Regions from separate parts of the Homo sapiens genome. Here region 1 is linked to region 2. Evidence: fine-mapped expression QTL. A gene starts in region 2. The other region holds a variant in brackets. All regions are shown on one strand. Distances are from middle to middle.

What was found.
Region 1: its variant is fine-mapped to the expression of SGMS1 in neutrophils (BLUEPRINT, PIP 0.95).

The regions. Positions count from the first base shown.
Region 1 is chr10:50,645,770-50,657,855 of GRCh38, reverse strand. No RefSeq gene overlaps it. Among named protein-coding and RNA genes, the nearest start is that of SGMS1-AS1, 27 kb to the right of the region's middle. RefSeq lists enhancers at 8,809-8,868, 9,079-9,228, 9,249-9,408. The variant G/AG (reference allele first, on the strand shown) is at 6,039.
Region 2 is chr10:50,618,208-50,630,293 of GRCh38, reverse strand. It overlaps SGMS1 (sphingomyelin synthase 1), which reads left to right and starts at 6,338. Exons shown (of 11, transcript NM_147156.4): 1 at 6,338-6,587. SGMS1-AS1 (SGMS1 antisense RNA 1) reads right to left here and starts at 5,343. Exons shown (of 4, transcript NR_126411.1): 1 at 5,103-5,343; 2 at 3,489-3,624; 3 at 1,116-1,263; 4 at 1-717. It also overlaps the pseudogene SHQ1P1. RefSeq lists silencers at 5,171-5,800, 5,925-6,082, 6,131-6,390, 6,651-6,990 and enhancers at 5,941-6,469, 7,181-7,580, 8,131-8,290.

The DNA of each region.
Region 1 (12,086 bases), 28 kb before region 2:
ATTAATGGCGTGAGACACCGTACCTGGCCATATTTTTTTTTTTTTTCAAAAAATTCATTTGTAGAGTTTAAAAAGTATCTTTCGATCAAGAGTTCTTATTGTATTTATGTTTGCAAATTTCATTTCCCATTCTGTTGCTTGCCTTTTCACTCAGTGAGTTATTTTATGATTACAAATCCCTATTTTTTATGTTATTTTATTACTATTTATTAACCTATTTATCTTATTTACTAGCCTTCAATAGTTACTTTTTGAGTCTTTTTTTAAATCTTAAGGTCATAGAAGTGTCCTCTGTATTACTTTTTAAAAACTGTACTGTTTTATGTTACACATTGGCTTCTATATGAAATAATTTTTGTGTATGTTGTGAGGTTGGATGTTAATATTCATTTTTCTCTGTACCGATGTATGAAAGACACCACAATTTATTGAAAATGAATCTTTTCCTCATTGTACTGAAGCACTATTTTTTTCACAAATCAGCTAAATATATTGTGTGGTTCTCTTTATGAGCTCTCTATTCTGTTTCATTGAAATATCTATACTTGCACCTTTTCCATAATGTCATAATTGATATACATTTATAAAAACTTTATATCTAATAGTGTAAGTCTTCACATTATATTTTTTCTTCAAAGTTATCTATACACTGCATTTTCATTTGCATTTTATAGTCAGTTTTTCAGTTGCCACCAAATATAATGCAGACAAATTATGCTATTACTAATCACAGTATTGTGATTTTCAGTGTATTACAAATATAGATTTATTTAAAATACTGAATCTTTCTTCTAATACCAAGAATGACATAGGAACATGGTACACCTTTATTTCTGTTGAATATCTTTAATTTCTCTCAGTAAAATCTCACAATTTTCAGTAAAGGGATTGCATATGCTATGTTATATTTTATATTAGGAATTCAATGTTTCTTCCTGGAAACATTTCAGATTTTTAATATTTTATTTGATTTAGACTCACTATATTTGGAAAGCTTTAATTGTAATTTTATTTTTAATAGATATAGAGCTATTCGGATTTGCTATTTATTCTTGTGTCACTGTTAATGATTTTCTAGAAATGTATCTATTTCATCAAATTATGTCAAAATTTTTGACTTAAAGTTACTTATTACATTCTCTTTTTCTATCCCATGACTATAGAATCTATAATGATTTCCTTGTTATTATTGATGATATTTAGAATTTGTGGATACTCTTTTTTTTTTTAATTTCACGCATAATCATGGTATATTTTTATCAGTCTTTTCAAAGTAACTTTGGCTTTTGCTGATTTCATTTATTTTATGATTGTTTCCTTTTCTCATGCTTCTTATGTATCTTCTCTTTTCTAATTCTTTGGATTTAATTTGACATCACATTTTAAATTTTTGAGATTGACAATTAGATTATTAATTTTCAAGCTTTAATTTTTTAAACAAGCATATGCATTTATCTCCAAGCTGAGGTTTGCCTAAGCCTCCCATCTTTTAACAAGCAGTATTTTTACTTTCATTTTTATTAAATTCAAAATATATTTTAATATTCATTGTAATTACTTTTTTGATGCATGAATAACTTAGAAATGTGATGCTTAATTTCTAAACATTTGGTTACTTTCAAAGTCTTGCTATAGATTTGCAGCTTAATAACATTGTTGTACAAAAAAACACTGTCAAGGATTTCAAATTTTTGGTATTTATTGATTCTTGTTATGGGCCTAACCTCAGCCTATATCTGTCTATCTAACCTATCTATCTATCTATCTACCTACCTATCTATCTATCTATCTATCATCTATCTACCTAGATAGACAGAGATATCTATAGATAGCTATGGTAAATTTTGAAACACGTTCCAAATACATTATAATAAATTGTGTGTTTTGCTATTTTTGGGTGCAGTTTTTATATCAAAGTATTTAATCCTACTGCTTTAAATTTTTGTATTATTATTGATATTTTGTATCCTTTTTGCTATCAGTTATTGAAAAAGGTATATTAAAGTCTTTATGATCAAAGATGCGGCTATTGCTCCTTTTAGTTCTATAAAAATTGTAAATGTGTGTTAACTCTGTGTGAGTGAATATACATACACAAGTTTGACAACTTCCTCAATAGTTGATTCTTTTATATGGATGATGGATACATCTTCCTTTCAGGTAATAATTTCTGCCTTAAAATCTCTTTTGTCTGATATTAACATAGCTAAACAAATTTTCATTTGGCTTGTGTTTGATTACCTTTTATATGCATATATGAAAGGTTTTTAAATTAAGATAGTTCTATAGATAGAAGATAGAAGATATATAGATAGAAGATGGTAGATATCTTCTACAGATATAGATATGTATATGTATTTATATACATATATAGGTATATTAATATTTATATGTCTATATCTGTATACAAATATATATATGCAGATATCTATACATGTATATCTATATAAATATCTACATGCCGATATATATATCTATGTGTGTATATGATATCTATGTCAATGATGTAGGAAGAGTATTATGTCCAATATTTACCAGGAGTCATTTCAGATAAGCAAGAGGGTTCTGGTATACATTTTCTCTTCCTACTCACTAAGGATCTACCAAAGCAAATCATTTGTAGAACAAGGAAAGTTATAAAATTCTCTCTCTCTCTTTTTTTCTTAAGAAAACTGGGGAAAGCCCTTAGACTAGCTTGGCTAGGAGGATGGTTTCTGTTCATATATTTTCTGGTCTGGTTTTCTCTTCTGTCATTCATGGTTTTTGATTATTATATTCTAGGTCATTGACTCCTGGCCAATCATTTCGCAGTTGTGGGAAGGTCTCCATTGCTACCTATTCCAAGTTCACTCTATCCATGGTATCTTGTCTTTCATGCGTATGCTCTGTGAAATTTTGGCTTCTGGTTCTTCACCCCCATGGAACAGGTTCTGCTTTCCTTTCACTGTGTTCTCCTCAACTACTCCCTGTGCTGCTCAGCACTGTCTGTGCACCTTCTTCTGGGGCTGCTTGTCGCAAGAGGGGTTAATCCTTCTAGTGTTTGGAATTGGGGTTTGGAATCACTTCCAGATTGAGAGTGAGATGAAAAATAAAATATGTTGTGTACTAGGCAGAGGAAGTAATGGTACTTCCTGGAGGTGAGATGACATAAGGGTAGGGAACACTGGGATGCACTGCCCAGATGTCTCTTCAGGAAAGACTTATTCTCCTTTAGGAAAGACCAAGTCTCCTGAGGACTTACTTTCCTTGCTGCTAGATGATAGCTCTCTGGGTCACTTCCGTTGGGGCATTGCCTTAGTTGCAGATAGACTCTTTGCCTGAGGTCACAGCCCCTGCCTTAGTTGCAGATAGACTCTTTGCCTGAGGTCACAGCCCCTGCTGGAGGCCCACAGCCAGTGGCTGATCGACAAGAGGTATGAAGGTTGAGACCTCTCTTGTCCCCAGTCAAGTCACCTTGGAAGGGTTATCTTATTTTTAGAACTCCCTGAAGGATCGCCTGAGGCTTTGAGGCTGTGCTGCAGTTCAACTACTAGCTCTGCTCCATCCTGCTTTCTTTCCATGGGTGTTGACCACATGGGAACACCCTAATAAACCTCCTACACATTGGTCTCCATCTTGGAGTTGGCTCTCCAGGGAGTTCAATGCTGTGTTATGGTGTTACACACCATCACTGATTTTTTTTCAACCATCTCCCAGCAATCTTGGCATGTTCTTTTATTCAAATTGTTCTCCCAACATTTTCCCCCATGAGAGCCACAAAAAAATGGAGGATCTGGGCAGATAATTAAGGAAGGCACTCAGGCATTAGGTTAAACAGGCAAAGTTCACTAAGGGAACTGAGGGTTGAGTATGGGAAGTGCGTTCAGTAAGAATCTGCTAGAACCAGGGTAAAGGCAAGGGCTGAATCAGCAATAGATTAGCATTGAGTGTGGAGCTTGTTACACATCTTCTGGCTAAGAACAGGTTTAGCCTCAGAGTCTGCGGAGCCAGAAAGGAGAAAGAGGAAAGAGGAAAAGGTCGGAGGAGGGAAATTTGGAGCTTAGAGGTCAACAGGTTAGAAATAGAGACAGGAAACTAGGCAAGTGATAACACACACACACACACACACACACACACACACACACACACTGTATTTGGGAAAAGAACTGAGCTTAAGGAGGACTACACCCTTGAAATAGCTTCCCCTTTCAAGGTTCTTCTCTGCAAAATTAAAGACGACCTTTTTTATTAAAAACCTCCTGACAGAGATTCCTCACATTCATTCTCCTAACATACATTATACACGGGGAACAAAGCTGCAGGAAACATAATGGAAACAAGAAATATAAATAGCTAATCTATATTTATGAGCACAGGAAGGAAGTGTCAGCCAGTGTCAGGAAACAAGAAGGGGGATGTTAGGGTCCAGAAAAGGAGCAGGTAGAGGAGGCTGCTGACTTTGCTTAGTTCCATCAGGGTTGGAGAATTTGCATTTTGAGTGGGTCCAGCAGATGGTGCTGCTCCAGTAGAGAGCAGGAAAATCGTTTTGTATGTTTACAATTCTGAACGAATATGATTTGTAAAATTCCAACCCTATCTCCTCAGACATTAATATATGTACAGACACTAGTGTTTACAGCAAATCCTAATCTTGGTTTCATCAACTATCTGGGTCATTCTTATTTCGTATAGTAGCAATGCTATTGACAAGTTTCATGATCTTCTCTTGCCAGTTCCTCCCAGGATGATGGGATTTGGAGTCAATCCTGCAGTAATTGCTGGCACTATCACCTGCTGTCTTGTGTGCTTGCGTGATAGTGCATCTGAAAAACATCTTCAGAAATGCACTGTTAATGCTTTGTCTGTTTCTATAAATATACTAAGGTTTAAGTATATACCTAATTGTATATAAGAGCCATAGTAATATGAATAATATTACACAGGCAGGAAATAAGTCAATAAGTCATTAAAAGGTCATTGTCTTAGTGTGCTAGGGCTGCCATAACAAAATACTATAGATGGAGTAACGTAAACAATAGACATTTATTTTTTTTCATGGTTCTTGAAGCTGGAAAGTCCAAGAGCAAGGTCTGGCAGCAGTGTCAGGTGAGGACTCTTTCCCTGGCTTGCAGATGGCTGCCTTCTCACTGTGTTCTCAAAGGGTGGGAAGAGATCTCTCTCTCTCTCTCTATCCCCTTCTCTTTCTGTCTTCCTCTTTCTCCCCTATCCTGCCTCGCTCTCTGACACTTCTTACAAGATTACCAATCCTATCAAATTAGAGCCTTACTCTTATGACTTATTTAAATCTTAATGGCCTCTTAAAGGCCCTATCTCCAAATGCAGTCACCTTGGGAATTAGGGTTTCAACACATGAATTTTAACAGGACACAATTCAGTCCATTGAAATTGCTAAATATAAAAGGACTAAAAACGTAGCTGTGCCGGTAGTGGTAAAATGTGGGAACCAACACATATTTTCATCAGACGCAATACTCATTATCCTTGACTCTAATCCTAAATTGTGAGAAAATAAATTTCTGTTTATTTTTAGAAATGACTGAGAATTTCCAGCCACCAGGTAGTTTCCAAAATGTTTCTTTTTCCTTTTTTGTTTGCTTCCAATTTTTTAAAAATTTCATACCTACAGAGAAGTTGAAAGAATAAACATCCATATGTAGACTCACCACCAACTGTTCACATTTGGCCACATTATCTTACTTCTCAATCACAGGCTTTCAGCTTGGAATGTAACTTAAAGGATGTTTGAGTCAACTTTCATTCTATACACAATCTCAGTACAAGGGGTCATTGGCCTCTAAGATCTCTGGTGATGAGGAACTCAGCTATCTTTGAGTTAGCTGCTTGTGTTTTTTAGAGGCCTCTGGTTGTCACTAAGTTTGTGCTTAAACTGAAACCTGGCCCTCTATAACTTCCACCAGCCGGGCTTTATATAACCCTTCAGCTAGACAAACACTAATTCTAGTTCCTTTCTTATACGATAGCTTTGTAATGTTTGAAGGCAGTACACATGTCCCCTTCTTTAGTTTGAAAAAAAAAAA[G/AG]ACTAGCTAGCTGTGATTCCTTCATCCATGCCTTATTTGGAGTGGTAAGAAGTCTTTACTTGCTTGAGTAGTAGGGTCACATATTTACAAAGCACCACTGAAATTCTATAAGACAATGAGGCTTCTTGATTTGCTCTAATGGATGCAATCTTTCTTTACTCACTCCAGTTGGCCCAGTCTCTTTGGGGTTTGTGGAAATCAGGAGTCCCCCAGGACAACCCTCAGGTTCAATAATTGATAGAACTCACTGAAAACTGTTATACTCGCAGTTATGGTTTATTACAGTGAAAAGTAAGAAATGAAAATCAGCAAAGGGAAGAGGCATGATGGGGCAGGGTCCAGGAGAGTTGCAAGTGCAAGCTTCTAGTTGTCCTATCACAGTGGAACTCTAGACAGTGCTAATTCCTCCCAGCAATGATGTTGGGCAATACGCACAGAGTATTGCCAGCCAGGGAAACTCACTTGGGCCTTGGTGTCCAGAGTTTTTAACTGGGGCTTGGTTACATAGATATGGTTGACTACCAGTAGATATGGTTGACCACCCATTGACCACCTTAGCTTCCAGCCTTCCAGAGGTTGGGTTGATATTGCAAGGCCTAAAGCCCCACCATAATCACATTATTAGCATAGACTATCTGGCATGGTCTTAGGCTGCCAGGTAACCCCATCTTATCAGGCAGGACATTACAAAGGCTTAAAATACTCTCAGAAGCAAAGGCCTAACTTCTCTTTGTGCAAAGTTCATTCTTTTCCACACAGGGTAGATTAGCTATCTTTCCAATATCCCCTTTGTTCATTCCCTACTTCTCTACCAGATGGTGTTTGGGCATGTGGATCCCACTGTAGGGGGAGATGAGCCTTGATATGAGTGCAGGGCCTATCCTATCTCCTGCCTCTGCTCTGAAGTGGCTGATCCAGTCAGGTTCCCACAGCCTTACAGTGGTCTTCCCCAAGTGCAGTGTTGTTCCTAGGCTCAGTTAGACCCACCCTACCTTACATTTGCCAGGACTGCAGATGCCACCGAGTTCAGCCAGGTCCTCTCTCTAGCCCCTGGCCTTGACGTTAGTGTTATCTCACCCCTAACTACAGAGGCTCCATTATAGCAGGTCCTGAAGCTGCCAATTCTGTTACCTACCTTGTCTGGTTCTACAGGGGGAGTCTGGGAACTTCTGGAGCCCTTCTATGCCTTTTAAGAGGAAAGGCAAGTTTAGGAGTGGGAACACAGGCCCTCTTTCTGTGGAACCATGCCTCTCTGCCGCCTTCCTTGTTCTGTGGTAGCACCAGGTTGGTGTAAGCCATTCTACACCACAGTCTCTTCTCAGAGTTCTGAGCTAGGACTGGGGCACAAGCCCCCTCTGCTTTTGCATCTGGCTCTCCCCCAGTTTATGTACCATATCCTCTTCTTTCCTCTTCCAGACTGTGGCCCGGAGGAGGCAAGCCAGGACACAAGTGTCTGCCCACTTGCTTTTGCTACAATTTGCCTTCTGTTATTTTTCCCACAATCCACCAGGCCAACAGGAAGAACTGCTTCTATATCAGGTTTTCCTCTATCCCCAATAAGGAGGTATTTAGGCTATATTAGTTGAATAGTAGAACCAGATATAAAGAAGGGGATAGAATGGCTGGGCATGATGGCTCACAACTGTAATCCCGGCACTTACGGAGGCCGAAGCGGGCAGATCACTTGAGGCCAGGAGTTTGAGACCAGCCTGGCCAATATGGCAAAATCCTGTCTCTACTAAAAATACAAAAATTAGCTGGGCGTGGTGGTGCATGCCGCAATCCCAGCTACTCTGGAGGCAGAAGAATTGCTTGAACCCAGGAGGTGGAGTTTGCAGTTTTCTAAAGGGAAAGAAAACTATTAATATTTTCAAAATATTATCTCTATTATGCTTGTATAAAGAGTTCAGTAGCAATGAAAACCTGACCCATGGAAAATAGGAAAACTTCTTCCCTTTTCCCTCTTTCCCTTCTTGCCATCTTTCTTAAAGCCCATAGACTTCACAAATAACTTAGCAACTAAAAGGTCGTAGTTTTGGAAATGGAAGGCAGGTCATGTGATTCACTGGAATTTTAATTTTCATGGTAATGATAATAGCTGCCATTTATTTGAACTCTATGTACCAAGTATTGTGCTGAATTAATTTAATTTAATTTAATTAATTTAATTCTCCCCAAAGCGCTATTACTATACCATTACCCCCATTTAGCAGATGAGAAAACAGGCTCAGAGAAGTTAAGTAATTTTCCAAAATCCTATAGCTGGCACTGGAATTTAAAGCCAGTACCATTAGACTACAGGGTCCATGCACTGATTGACTACCCCTCCTAAACTGCCTTTTGATGAGGGATTCATATTTCTGTTTTCTTTGTAATTGCCACATAAGGCATTCAATAAAACACTACTTTATGCTCAGCTGCACTCAGTTTTGCAAGCTTCCAAGGATCCCTTGGTGATAAAGGAGTAATGTGGCACTTAAAACCTGGTCTGATATTGGCATGCACCCTAAAAATGCTGCTGGTATTACTGAGGGAACCAGCCGCTTGGGACTCTTACCTTCCTAATCGCTTCTTAAGGGAACTTGTAATGAATCTAATTGGAAGCATCTACTTAATTCCCTACAAGATAATATCACATAAACCAGAGCAAGAAAGGTGTTAAAATCAATAAATGAGAGAGAAAGAACTGAAAATATAGAGCTAAGGATAGGAGGGCAGGCAGGGCATTGTATATTTGTAGCTCAGGAGAAAAGTCTGGGGCACTTTTTGATAACTGCTGTATGTGCAAAAAAATGTGTTTGGGTGTGGGAACTATGAGGACGTATGTTCCTTTAGACATCTGATAATCTAAACTATGGTAATTTCTGTGGGTATCAGTGAAAAATCTGTGCTGCTGATCTGTTCAAAGTGCAGCACTATGGGCAGATTTCAGATCATACTGAGAATTGAGGCCGTGTGACTGTGATCAAGATTGTACTGGAGCCATCATTTGGTTATTCATTTACCCATTACGGAGTTGAGCTGGGGCTGGGCACGGTGGCACACACCAGCAATCCCACCACTTTCGGAGGCAGAAGTGGGAGGATTGCTTGAGCCCAGGAGTTTAAGACCAGCCTGGGCAACATAACAACCCTGTCTCTACAAAAAAATATTTTAAAAAATTGGGCTGGGTGTAGTAGCTCACGCCTGTAATCCCAGCACTTTGGGAGGCAAAGGTGGGTGGATCACTTGAGGTCAGGAGTTCAAGACCAGCCTGGCCAACATGGGGGAAACCCCATCTCTAGTAAAAATACAAAAAAATTAGCCACGCATGGTGGAGCACACCTGTAGTCCTAGCTACCCAGGAAGCTGAGGCACAAGAATCACTTGAACTTGTGAAGCAGAGGTTGCAGTGAGCCAAGATCAAGCCACTGCATTCCAGCCTGGGCAACAGAGTGAAACTCTGTCTAAAAAGAAAAAAAAAATTTAGCCAGGCATGGTGCCTGCCTGTGGTCCCGTCTACTCAGGAGGCTGAGGTAGGAGGATAGCTTGAGCCCAGGATGTCAAGGCCACAGTGAGCTGTGATTGCACCATTGTACTCTGGCCTGGGAGATGGAATGAGACTCTGCTTCTTTTTTTCTTTTTTTTTTTCTCCTTTTATGGGTAGGACTTGGGTGGGTGGAGATGATATGATGGGGATGGACATTAGAGGGGAAGTCATTAGTGAGCAGAGAGCTAAAGATGGGAAAACGCGGTGTGTGTTCCGGGGTATGGAGAGTTATTTTCTCCAGCTAGACTTTCAGAAGAAGGAAAGAAAGAGAGACAAAACCAGAAGAGCTGAACAGGATCAAATTGTGTAAAATGATGACTGCTAGGACCCCAGGACCAGTGCTCAGTGTGAACCACAGTGGCACTGGGAGGGCCTGGGAGTAGGAAAATCAGTGAGGAGGCTCTGAGCTTGGGTGGGGCAGAAAGGGTAACTTTTTTATGTTTGCTGCTTCCGAGGCTGCAGTAACAATACAGTCCCTCAGTCACCTCTTCCCTCATGGTTGTTCCCACTGTGTGTCTTGCTGGTTTCTCCTCTTGGTAAACCTCCACCATCCCCCGGAGTTGTATCTTTTGTCTTCCTCTCCTCCCCAACCATCTCCCTTCATTACATATCTTAAAAATGTCTTTTATTTTTATTTATTTATTTTTTGATATGGGGTCTCACTCTGCTGCCCAGGCTGGAGTGCAGTGGTGCAATCATAGCTTACTGCAGCCTCACCCTCCAAGCCCAAACAATCCTCCTACCTCAGCCTCCCAAATAGCTGGGACTCCAGGGGCACACTACCACACCCAGCTAATGTCCTTTTTTATTATTTTTATTTTTAGTAGAGACAGGGTCTTACTATGTTGCCCAGGCTGGTTTCAAACTCCTGGGCTCAAGCAATCCATCTGCCTCAGCTTCCCAAAGTGCTGGGATTACAGAAATGAGCCACAACACCCAGCAAAAAATGTCTTTTAGCAGTTTGGTTTTAGCTCACATTTCTGGGGAAATGGTCCTCAACGTCTCCTCCAGGGAGCAATGTTATCAGGTTGGTAGTGGCAGCTGCCAGACTGCAAAGAGTAAAAAAGGAGGCTCTGAATTAGAGGCAATGACCATGCTGAAAGGAGAAGAGAATAAGATAGGCTTTTATTTTTTTTTCTCTTTTTTTTTTTTTTTTTTTTTTTTTGAGGCGGAGTCTCACTCTGTCACCTAGGTTGGAAAATGCAGTGGCGTGATCTCAGCTCACTGCAACCTCCACCTCCCAGGGTCAAGTGATTCTCGTGCCTCAGCCTCCCAAGTAGCTGAGATTACAAGCATGCACCACGATGCCTGGCTAACTTTTTGTATTTTTAGAAGAGACAGGGTTTCACCATGTTGGCCAGGCTGGTCTTGAACCCCTGACCTCAGGTGATTGGACTGCCTTGGCCTCCCAGAATGTGGGGATTACAGATGAAGATAGGCTTTTAAATCCTGGGGTCAGCAGTCTTGGAAGAAGCCAAGTCTGGAGAGAAGCTATGGGGTATTACAAAGAAGTTATTCATGTACAAAGTTAGGAAAAGGGCAGCAAGAGTTAACATTTATTAAAGCTCAGGTTAAAAGGATAGTGTTTTAGTTCATTTTCTGTAGCTTATAACAGAATAGCTGAGAATGGGCAATTTATAAAGAAAAAGAATTTATTTCTTATAGTTACGGAGGCTGAGAAGTCCAAGATTGAGGGACACCAACTGGTGAGGGCCTTCTTGCTGGTGAGGACTCTGTGCAGAGTCCCCCTTTGGCAAAGGGCATTACATGGCAAGGGGGCTGAGTGTGCTAGCTTGGGTCTCTCTTCCTCTTCTTATAAGGCCACGAGTCCCACTTCCATGATCATCCATAGTCCATAAACCCATTAAGCCATTAATCCATTAATGGTAGACCCCTCACAACCCATCACCTCTTAAAGGCCCCTTTCTCAATACTGCCATATTGTTGGTTCAATTTCAACATGAGTTTTGGATGGGACAAATATTCAAACCATTGTAGATTGTCTTGTCTAAATGGATTGAAACTACTCAAAATTAACTTCCTATCTCCTGACTTCAATAAGTCTCTGTCTCTGAGGAACTATTTTCTCCATTTTTTCCAAGACTGCATCTTCTTAAAGCAAAAACAACAAAAACCTAAAATCCGATTTGTCATAGGTGTAATAAGTCAATCATCTAGAATTTCAGTTTGTGTGAAACCAAATATGCAGATAGTTTGAATTGTTAATGAAAAATTAACAATGAAAAATTTCCATCCCATCAATGTCTAATTTGTGTCCCACCATCTCCACAGATTTCTCACTACCCTTGTGAATTCGTAATAGTTGCTGCCTCTAAAAGCCCCCAGATCTTTTATTTCTGAGTCGTTCATTCCAGCAGGTAGTCTGGGCAGTCTCTTTTTATTTAGGCCTTTAAAAAATACTCTAAATTCATTTTTCCCTCAACTGGTATTTTCAAGCCATTTTAAGAATAGTTTTTTATTTCTCTTTAAGATATAAGTGTATATAAAGTGTATATTTT
Region 2 (12,086 bases):
TCATGGTGTCTTTTGGAAGAAGGGTATTGTGTTACCTGCTCTATCGCCATTTCAAACTGGCGATGAAGGCCTACGGGGAGACTATAAAGATACTGCAATTAAGTAAAAGTGCAGTTTTAAAGTGTCTCCTGGATATTCACAAAATTTTTCAGGAAAACGACCCAGCATACATACTGAATGATCTCTACATCTCATACTACTGTGTGTGGACTCAGAAAGTCAAATCCAAAACGTTGGCAGCTCTTGCAGAAGCCTTAAAGGAAGTCTCCCTTACAAAGGCCCAGTTGGGGTTAGAACTGGAAGAACTAGAAGCAGCAGCACTTCTTGTCCAGGAGGAAGAATCTGCATTACAAGCAGCCCATTCAGTTTCTGGGCAGCAGAAACTTTGCTGCAGCTCTGAGGCAGGTGATTCAGAGGACTCAGACAGCACTGTGTCATCTGGAAACAAAGACTCAGACTCACATTCAGAACAAGATGAACTCAAAGATAGTCCATCTGAGACAGTTCTTTGCAAGGTCCCCTTCTTGAAGAAAGCAGTGCCCTTCTGATTGTTGATGGTGGAGTATGCAGAAACACAGCCATCCAGGAGTCTGATGCCAGTCAGGGAAAGCCACTTGCCTCTTCCCAGCCTCTTGGAGTGTCTGGGCCTCTGATAGAGGAGCTTGGGGGAACAACTGAAGACCACCGTTCAGGTTTTTGAACCCGAGGGCACCACTGCTGTAGACCACATCAACATGCAGGAGAGAGATGGCTGTCAGACACCAAATATTTGACTCTTAAGTGGTTTTATTCATTGTTGAGAAATGTGTTAGATTTGGTTTCATTTACAGAATGAGAATTCCTCATTTTCACTTTGTAATTTTTCTTAGTATATACAGTCAGCCTGCTGTATTTGTGGGTTCCACATCTGTGGATTCAACCAACTGCTGATCAACAATTTTTAAGAAAAAACTGCATCTGTACCAAACATGTACAGACTTTTTTTCTTATTATTCTCTAAATAATACAGTGTAACTATTCCCACAGCATTTACATTGTATTGGGTAATATAAGTAATCTTGTGATGATTTAAAGTGTACAGGAGGATATGGGGAGGTTATACGCAAATACTGTACCTTTTATTTTTTTATCAGGGACTTGAGCATCTGAGGATTTTGGTGTCCTCAGGGGTCCTGGAACCAACTCCTCACAGATACTGGGATGACTTTATGACATTGTTTTTCAATCAGTGAATGTTTATACCTTTTGGTTTCCTTGCTACAACTGTGAAGATAAAATTCAAAAGTATTTTTACCAAAGTGTAGCTAATATTTCAAGCTGAAAATAATAGTTCTACTGCCAGTGTCTCCAGAATGTGGAGCCCATTAATATTTTTATTTTAGCTTTACTGAGGTATACTTGACCGCTGATAAACTGCACATATCTAAAGTGTACAGTGTGTTGGCATATGTATACCCTGCGTAAAACTATCACTGCGATCAAGGTGAAAATCAGACCCATCATCCCCAAGTGCCCTTTTGCCCCATTATTAGTTTGCATGTCCTAGAATTCTATGTAAATTGAATCATACAATATGTATCCGTTTTTTGGTCAGCCTTATTTTACTCAGTATAATTATTTTGAGATCCATCCATGTGGTAGCATTTGTCAAGAGTTTTTGTTTTTGTGTTTTTCATTGCTGAGTACCACTTCATTGAACAGATTTGTCCATTGACCTACCGATGAACACTTGGGTTGTTTCCAGTTTGGGGCTGTTATAAATAAAGCTGTTATGAACATTTGTATACAAAAAAAGGTGAAATTGGAGATGGACCTTGAAATATTAGTAAGATTAAGTGGCCAGTGGGAATCTGGGGAAATAGGATTCAACTAGACAAGAGGGTTAATGAATATAGGTAGGGTTGTTCTTGTTACTCTCTGGAAGAGATTAAAAACTTGGGAGCTCTCAAGTGGTCATTTCATGGAACTGAAGGAAAAAAGCCAGAAACCACAGGGAGAGAATAAATAGAAATGCAGAGGAGACAGAGGGAGACTTTCTGGGTTCCTTTCAATACTCCAGTTCCTGGTTTCCATCTCATCCCGAGGCTCAGCTGCATCCCTGATCTACCCTGGTATCTTCAAATAAATTCCAAGTTTTTTGTCAATGAATAGAAGCCAAGCAGTTATTGAAGCCAGGAATCCTAGCCAGGTACACAGGAATGAGCACAGAATGTTGAGTATTATCAGATCTAAGCCTCGGGGCCAATACTTGGAATGACCTTTGTTGTCTTCGACTAGCTTTTTTGGTTAGCCTTGGTTTGGAACCCAGGTTGGCCAGAAGAGTTTAAAGAGCTAAGCAGGGGCTCCTAAGGTCTTGCTCCTGTTATTCAGGCTACGTGGCTCTGGATCACATTGAGACAAATTTCCATGGATAGAAACAAAAGTCTCCTTGCTTCCAGAGCACTATTTGAACTTTGACTACAGGTGGTTGGTAGTGATACCTATAGTATCTCCCATTTAATTCCCCAGTTTAGACTGTGCAGAAGACAAATGGATCTTGAAGAATGACTGTGGAATGTCATAAATGTAATCAGATGGGGACTCCAATTTCAGCTGCTCTCCCAGAAGTAGTACCTTTACTGGGGCAGATTAACACATTGGTATGCACCTGGGGCAGATCTGACATTTGGTATGCACTTATTTACCTGGCTAATGCCTTTTCCTCCATACCAATTTGCAAGGTCCATCAGAAGTGATTTGCTGTTACCCAACAGGGCCAACAATATGTCTTCCCAGTGTTGCCACGGGCTCCATTAGTTCTCTTGCTCACTGCCATAATAGTCTGAAGTGATCTTGATTGTTCTGACATTCCACAAAACATCACACTGGTCCACTCTATTGATGACATTATGTGAGCATCATTGGATCCCATGAGTACGAAGTAGTAAGTACTTTAGATGCCTTAGTAAGATGTATGCTAGAGGGTGAAAGAGACCTACAGAGATTAAGGTGGTGAGAGAAGCCCACCTTCTCAATGGTGAGTGATGGCTACTGCTGAAAGGTCCACTGAATAAAACCACATTTTAAATCAGGTAGTTTACCTTCTAAAGGTAGAAAAGTCATTCATTTGGAACCAAACCACCTACTTCAGAATAGCTGTTTTGGTAAGTGAAGCATTTGCTTCAGTATTTGCTCTTAGTATTATTTTTAACAAGATTTCTAATGACAGATTGTGACTTGGAGGTGATTCACTTTTGTTTCCTAGTTGTCTTGACAGCAACGTAATTCATGATATTCTGAGTACTTGAGAATCCAAAAATTTTACAATCCAACAATATGATGTTTATTAAAATTTTCCTAAGAAATACACTGGTAAGCAAGGCACAGTGGCTCATGCTTGTAATCTCAGCACTTTGGGAAGCGGAGGCCTGTGGATTACTTGAGCTCAGGGGTTCAAGGCCAGTTTGGGCAACATGATGAAACAGCCTCGGCCAAAAATAAAAAATTACCTGGGCATGGTGGCTTGCACCTGTGGTCTCAGATACTCAGGAGGCTGAGGGTGGAGGATCACTGGAGCCCTGTAAGTCAAGGCTGCAGGGAGCTGTGATGGTGCCACTGCACTCCAGCCTGGGTGACAGAGTGACTCTGAAGAAAAAGAAAGGGCACTGATAAAAATTCTTTAGGATTGGATGGACTAAAGAGGGAGAACTATTTTTATTCAATTTTTTTTTTTGGTTACAAATAATAGTGACTTAAGGACCATAACTAAATATAATTTCAAGGAGGGGCAACTCTTAGTGTCTCTTATAACCACTTCACACAGAATTTACTTTTACTGCTATGGTGATTTCTCTTTAGATTTCTTTCTGTATTTATTTACGCTTTTATTTTTTATGTATGGTGTATATATCTATGACTTTTTCTCTCTGATTTTATGAAACTGAAATTAAAGTGGAAATACTTCTATGCCCTGCTTTTTTCCATGTGCTATATATATATCATCCTAAAATTACACATGGAAAAAAATTTAAAAGGATTTTATTATGAAACATTTCAAACATATAGAAAATTTGAAAAAAAAAATTATGCCAGTACCTTAGACACACGATTTACATTCAAGAAGTATTAATATTTTGAAAAATTTAGTTATCTTTCATGTGGGGGTGGGGTGCATTTTAAAGTACATCAAAGACCAGATGCTTACTTGGACCTTTGTTTCAGGAAGTCCAGAGCTTACAGCATATTCTGGATAGCACTGGAGAGAAACCAACACGGGAGAGAAAGCAGCCAGCAGTTTTCTGGCACTCCCTTAGTTTGAAAAAATTTACATCACAAGAAAGCAAGCCTTCCTTTCACCTTTTAGGTGCAAACTGATAAACATAACCAGTAGGGCTACTATACTTCACAGAGCCTTGCTCCCAGTAGATACTCAAAACATGCAGTTGAACTGAATTTCAGTTGTTATTTTAAAGCCGTGCTTGAAAAGCGTATGTGACAAATGTACTTTCCTAATCTTCCTGAGAAGAGCAGTACTGTGTCTTACGGGCGAAAAAACCAGAGGAGCCAGGAGTGGAGGGTGCAATAAAACGCCTGCATTGGGGCAGATTGCCTCATTTTGAATCCCTGACTCCTCACTGTGCTTTGGGGAAAACTATGGAAATTTTCACTGCCTAGCTTATTAAAATGGACTGCTTAGCTGAAATATAGAGGCGTCCATGACAACTACCCGGAGGGCTTTGTTAATCATATTGCAGGACTCCACCCGCAGTTTCTGGTTCTGTAGGTCTAGGTGGGGCCGAAAACGTGCATTTCTAACAAATTCTAGGGTGATAGTGACGCGGCAGGTCCCGAGACAACAGGAAACCCAAGGGACTCGAGGCAGGCGCTCAATAAATATTCACTATGAACCTCAGCACCATCGAAGCGGCCCACCAGCAGGGGCCGCGGGGTATGCGCTGCAGGGAAGAGCACGGCCTCTGTCCAATGTCCCTGCCGGTACATCACTCCTCTGCAGGGACTAGGTTAGAACCGGGAGGCAGCCAGAGCAGCGCTCTCGCTGGATAACGGAAGAGGACTCCCTCGCCAACTTCCGCCTCTGGGGAAAAGCGGGGACCCTCCGCCACCTGAGTTCTGTTGTCTCGATTTCGCCGCAGTTTGCTTCTGGCCCGGGCGAGAACCTGTCCTCTGGGCAAGCCAGGGGTCGGTACAGGACTCCTATACCCCAAGGCGAGGCGGAGGCAGGTGCCGAGCGGTGGCCAGAGTCCGGCGCCCAAAGCCCGATGGGAGGGCGTGGCGGGGGAGGACGGTCCCGCCAGCTCCCAGGTCGGTTCCGAGCGCCCGCGGCCCGATGGCCGGGCGGAAGATGGCTGCCCGGAGCGCCGCGGACAGTCACGTGGTACGCCGGGCCCGTAGCCGCGCCCCTTCCCCCGCTCGCCAAGTCCCCGACCCCGCGGGAGGCACGGCCTCGGGCTGCCTGTAGGCCACCGAGGTGCGGCGCGGGCCGGCCAGGGACGGCGGGCATCGGGGCGGGAAGGCCAGCTCTCCCCGCTGTCCATCCTAACTTGGGCGCTGGGGCTTCGCTCGGGGAGCAGAGGAAAACCTTCCTTCAGGCGACTTGCACCACGTGGGGCTACTGGGCATGCGCGGGCTCCGACCCCGGCCTAGCCGCTCTCCGGGTTTTCGCCGCAGCTCGGAGGGGCGGCGGAAGGTGGGCCCCAGGCGGGGCGGGGCGGCTCTGACGCAGTCGGAGTTTTCACCTCGCGCGGTTAGAGCTCTTGCGCCTCCGTCGCGCTCCCAGGCGTCGCCAGAGGCTTTTTTTTTCTGTTGTGGGAGAAAGATGAGAGTCTATGGTTAGAGGTTTGAAAATGGGCCGAATAGTCAGGTCGGCCGTTTCCTAGGAATGATCCATTGGGCATTAATCCCAAGTGTCGCAGCCCTTGGGCTTGGTGGGAAAAAGAATCCAGTAGTAGTTCGCAAACTCGTGCCTGGCTTCCAGCAGGCTGAGTTTGCGTTCCCTGCTTTGTGACCAGCTCTAGCGGCTCCCGTCTCCGGCCCTGCCCCAAGGGATTTACCGTCCCAGATTGTAAAATCTGGCTCCCGCTAGGCCTTACTTAGTGGGCCCCTAAAAACGCTGGGGAAAGCGCCCGCCTCCTCAGTTTCCCATTACTTGAAAGTAAAATTCAAGGGGCCCAAACTGCGACTGTCCCTTGGTTCGGGGTCCCGCTCGGTCCCGGGAGGAGCCCCCCGCGGACCCCGCCCGGCCGGCCCGCCCCCCCGGCCGCAGTGAACACCCGGAGGAGCGGAGTCGCGTCGCGCGGGAAGCCGGGCCGGCTCGGGCAGCGGACTGGGCATGCTCGGCAGCCCGGGAGGCTCGCGGTGGCAAGTCGAAAGCGTTCGCACCAGCGGGGCAGCGGCTGCGGGCGGCAGGCGGCGGGCAGGTCGGGAGTGAGAAGGACCGGCCTGGGCTGACTGCTCTCCCCTCGCGCCTAGGGAGCCGGTCGGAGAGCGCGATTGGGGTGCGGAGCCCCGACGCTGCCCTGCCCCGGATTTCATTCCGCGGCGGGGGCTCCGCGAGCGGAATTCCGGCGGCTGCCGTGACTCCAGTGCAAGTGAGTCGTGGGGCAGGGACAGACAGCCGGCCTCACGGTTGCGGGGGCCGATCGGACACCTGTCTCGCGGGCCCGGCCTTATGCCGGGGAGCAGCGGGCGGGCTGCTCTGGGGCGAGGGGGCGTGAGCGCAGCCCGCGCGGTGCCGCGCGCGTACCTGGCGGGCAGTCCTCCAGAGCTGCTGCTCCCGTGGGTGGTCACAGCGGGGAGGTCCGGCGGCCGGGATCCGGGCTCGGAGGGGGCGGGCCGCCGGCGGGGCTCCCCGGCTAAGTTGGGGCGGGGAGGAAGGAGGAGGCGTCAGTGGGCACCTTTTCAGAGCTACTGCGTGCGGGCTGGAAGGCTGCCTGGTGTCGGATTGGGGCGATCGGGAGGCGGGGAGCCTTTGGGCAGTAGCCCGCCCGGGGTCCGGAGACCCCCACCCAGGGGCCGACTCCAATCACGGCTCCACCCCCACAGCCTAGGTGGCGGTGTGACAGTTGGTACCTTCGGTCCAGATCGCAGCCGGCCAGGCGCCCACTATTTCGGGATCCCCCCACCGTAGCCCCTCGATGCCCCCTGACGACAAAACAGGTGGGACCCCCCCTCCCCGAGGAGCGCTCCCCTTCTCTCCAGGCCGCGTAACAGCCCGCCAGGCTCGCGGGCGGCTCTGAGACCCCGCAGGGCTGCCCCCGCGGGGCGGGGACGTTTAGGGGCAAGGCCTGGAGGGGAATCGGCGCAGCCCAGAACTGGACAGTCTCTCCAGGACGCCGCTTTTCCGTGACAGAGGGGGTCTGCGCTATCCCCCAGCGACGTGTCAAGGGCAAAACAGCAGCAGCAGCGGCTGCCTCTCCCACCGTCTTAACCCGAACTCGGGCTTGTGGCGTCCTCCCGTGGGCCGGATAGAGTGCCCTAGTCCAGCTAACGGATTCAGCCTGGAGCGTTCTGGTGAATGCTGCTTTCCTCTTTGGTGCCGCGAAGTAGAAATCGGGATAAGGGTTGTCATGGCCGGAGGGAGCGAAGAGAATCCAGGCAGGTGCTTCTCAGATGTTTCTTTTCACCTTCAAACAGTACAGACTTCAGCGGTACACGCTTACGAAACCAAGTGAAGGCTGCTTTCTGAAAGGGAAGTTTATTTTCTATGTTCTGGGGCCTGTCGACTATTTTAGCTCCCTTGACATTTATCTTCCTGGACCTTTAAAGCTGTTTGGACAGGTTATTTTGCTTTTAGGTTTGGGGATGTTTCTAGTTGGCTCCCTGGATGTGGAAGTGGCGAATGTCTGATGTGCTGTGCTGTGAACTCCCCACGCTTCCTGGCACTGGGGGTTGAAACATTCAGGGGGGACTGAGTGGGCCGAAGGAGAGGAGTGGGACTGGTGACGTAGGAACGCGATGGGTGTTGCCTAGAGCTGCCCAGATGGAAAGGGGTTGGCGGCTGTTTTGGCCTGTGCAGAAGGGGAGAGGGCGGGGCGTTTCATTGGTCGGGGTGTGAAACGTCCACGGGCGAAGGCTGCGGGGGATGGGTGCCTGTCTGGTCAGTGCTCCAAGGGAAGCCCAGGGATGTTTGGTGATTCAGCAGGTGGCAGCCTTCCAGCTCTGAAGACATGCCGTGGCCAAGCAAAGAAGCAAGCAAGCAAGCAAGCAGCAGCCTGTGCCTGCTGTCGGAGGCGCCAGCTTTGGGGGAACCTCCAGGTGCTGCCTTCTGCCTGTGGCAGCTCACTTGTCTTATCTTGCTTCCTGTTTAGCTCTGGAGGCCCTGGTATTTCGAGTTTCCTTACTGCGCCTCTTAAAATATACAGCAATATATAGCATGTTTTTGAGTCTCTGCATCTCTGTGACCTGCTGGGTAGCAGTGGGGTGGCTGCTGCCGCCATGCAGTTTTAAGTAGTTACTCTGCAGAAAGTGACAGTGATATGTAAAAACAGTGAAGTGGCCTTTCCTTCCATTTCTGCTTCACAGAATAGAAATTTATGTTTTTAGTAAAATAATAAGATACATTTCTGCAACTCTTCAGTGATGATAGTGAGCTATTTGAAATTTCCGGAAACTTTTTAATAAAAGACATTAACTCCAGAGATGTATTAAATTGACATCAGAGGGACACGGTTATTAAACCAGTATCTTACTCATTGGAAGATTTCTAGCATCTTGCACAGTGTCTAACTTGTATTCAATACATGCCTCTGCAGCTGAAATTTTAAAAATTCTTCATAACAGAAGAGTTTACCAGTATTTACCATGTTCATCATCTATTTTTAAGTCTGTATTAATATGGTTAGAGTAAAATATATGCATCAATACCTTTGCACATTGACATTTAAAGAATATTTATGTTTTCGTAAGACATGATTGCTGGGTTGACCATAAACATTCAATTTTAGCTTGAAAACTTGATTCTTTTACTTTTCTGGTTAAATTTATTAATTTTCAAACTTGGGGCAGATCCTACATTTCAGCTAGAGAAATGGTGTGCTTTGTTAACATACGTCATGAAAACCAAACGGACTCCTGACTCCTAAGTATAGCCATCAGTTTTTTTTTGTTTGTTTTTCTTTTGAGACAGGGTTTTATTCTGTCACCCAGGATGGAGTGCAGTGGTACAATCTCGGCTTACTGTAGCTTTGAACTCTCCAGGCTCAGGGGATTCTCTTACCTCAGCCTCCCGAGTAGCTGGGACTACACGCACGCACCACTAAGCCCAGCTACTTTTTTATAGAGATAGGGTTTTGTTATGTTGCCCAGGCTGGTCCCAAACTCCTGGGCTCAAGTAATCCTCTCACCTTGGCCTCTCAAAGTGCTGCGATTACAGGTGTGAGTCACTGCACCTAGCAGTATTATTATTATTATTTTTAACTAAAAAGTGCTCCTGTTGGATGTCAAATGCTTTAACTTAGAAAACTTCATTTTATACATAACATTTCAGGAAAACTCTGAAAAGTGCTGCTATAGAAAAGCTGAAAGAGTATTTTGGGAATAAAAATTCTGGATTGTTTGCACACAGGCATCAATGCCCTGGTCTTTAGGAGGGAGGCATGAGTGTGCTGCCAGTTCATTCTGCTCTTTACCATCACTGTCTGTTCCTTCCTCCAATTGTTTAGGTATTTCTTCTTCTCCTAAAGATGTACTTTCTTGGCATGAGCTTGCTTTTTAAAGCAATCCTGTCAGAAGAATCTGTTGCATTTTCTCACACAAATTTGATCAATGGTGATTTTTATTTTTTGATTGCCATATACACTTTCCCACCACTTCATATGGCAAACTATTCAGTGGCTCTTGTGTCCTTGTGGGGGCATAACATGTTATAGATGGCTATGCCTTTTTTGGATGGTAGCTATAGCCATAACAGTCTCTTCTGGAGGAACTTTTATGACATGCTGGTCTTCAAGATTTTTGGCTTTCCTATTAAAGGCTTTTGGTCAGGAATATAAATGGCTATTTCTCCTCTCTAAGAGCATCCCTGTAAAGGTTGTTACCTCCATTAAGCTACCCAGTCACAAGAGGACCTTATTTTGGATCAGCCCACTTGGATGTGGGAGTTGGGAGGCAGCATTGGATGTCAGGGAGGAGAGAGTGAAGAAAGGGAAAGAGAAGGGTGGGCGGAGCCCCAGGAAGGTAGCTTGGTTTTATAACTGACTTCTGGATTCAGTAAAGCTGCATTGAATGGTGCTGATGAATAAGTTTGGCTCAGGCCCTGCTGGAATGCTTTGCTGTTCTCCCAGTCCTCCATCTCCACAGATAAACACATCACACACAGATCCACAGACACAGAGACTCACACAGACAGCGAAGAGAAAGACACAGAGAAAGAGACACACACACTCTGCCAAAAGCCAAGAGCACCAGTGTCTTTTTAAACTAATATGTCAAAGGGAAAATCCAGGACTCAGTAGCAGGTTTGATTTTGGGGGCCTGAAATCACCCCAAGCTTGTATTGAGAAAGATTCCCCTCCACTCTCAGTGACAAGCTGATCTACTCCCTTAATGATGTAAAGCCACAAGGGCTTTAACTGAAGCAACCATTATACGTACAGACAGGTGAGTGGAGATTTAGATAATTTGGGTGATTTACCTTTTAGACTCCTGGTGCTGAGAGCTGAGCTCACATTCCAGTTCTTGGCACAGGATCCTCTCACTGTGCAAAAGCCCCTTGCTTGTTTTACGTTTTTCTCCTTCATTCCCCTCCCAGCACCCCCCAGGCCCCTCTCCCCCAGAGGAGCCTTCTTTCCAGTGCAGGATATGTTCTTGCATATGTATGTATTTTGTTAAAGATGTTGAGTTACTTTGTTTGTTTTTGATTTACATAAGTGGTTCTGTGCTATAGATTTCATTCTTTTTTTATTCAACATTAGAGCTTTTTATTATGGAAATTTGCAGGCATTCATAAAAGTCAGAAGAACCTTAACATTTTATTTGTGAGATCCTTGTTAGTGCAGGTTTATCTAGTGCGTTGCCTTGACTGCTGCTTTGTAGGGCTGGTCTTTTATGTGTCTCCTACTTTTACTTACCCATTTCCCTAATGATGGATGCTTAACTCACCTCCACTCCTGCTACCACTAGCAAACATCCTGTATGCATTTTCTTTCTTTTTTTTCTTTTTTTTGAGACAGAGTCTCGGTCTGTCGCCCAGGCAGGTGTGCAGTGGCATGATCTTGGCTCACTGCAGCCTCTGCCTCTTAGGCTCAAGAGACTCTCCTACCTCAGCCTCCTGAGTAGCTGGGTCTGTGTGCATTTTCTTAATGATCTGGTTGAGAATATCCCTAGGGTAGTGGTTCTTAAAGTATGGTCCACACCTGGCAGCATCGGCATCAACTCTGAACTGTTAGAAATACAGATTCTTGGGTCCTAACATTCCAGAATTCCTGAATCAGAAACCCTGAACTGTGTTTCAGCATGCCCAGGTTGGAGATTCTGATACATGGGAAAGTTTGAGAACCGCTGCTCTAAGGGTATGTACTTAGGAGTGGGATGGCTGAGTAATGGTGTACAAACATACCTGTTTTTACTAAACACTGCTAAATTACTCTCCAGAGTTGCTCAGCTGCTTTCTGTTCCACATCAGTGCACAAGGGTTCCTGATTCCCCACGTTCTTACTCAAATTTGTTATTAACCAACTTTCTAGTTTTACCAATGTTTGGTGGCTGTAAAGTGGGATCTCATTGGGTTTTCTTTTTGTGAACTTATATGATTTCTTAGTAAATTTGAACTCTTTTAATATATTCATTAGTGATTATAATTTCTTTGACTAGCCATACTTGCTTTTCCTAATGTGGTGATTTGAAGATTTTTTTGGTATATTCTAGATGTTAATCTCATCCTGTCTTCTGTTTATCAACTTTGTCAATGGTAACTTTGAGAAATTTTTAGTTTTGATATAGCCCCAGTCCATTAATTTTTGCCTTAGGTTGCACTTTAAGAGTATAAGATATTTTTCCTTACCCCAAGATTACAAAGATATTCTGTATTCTGTCAGCTTTCCAGTTTTACCTTTCACATTGAGGGCTTTATTCTATTTGAAGTTCATCTT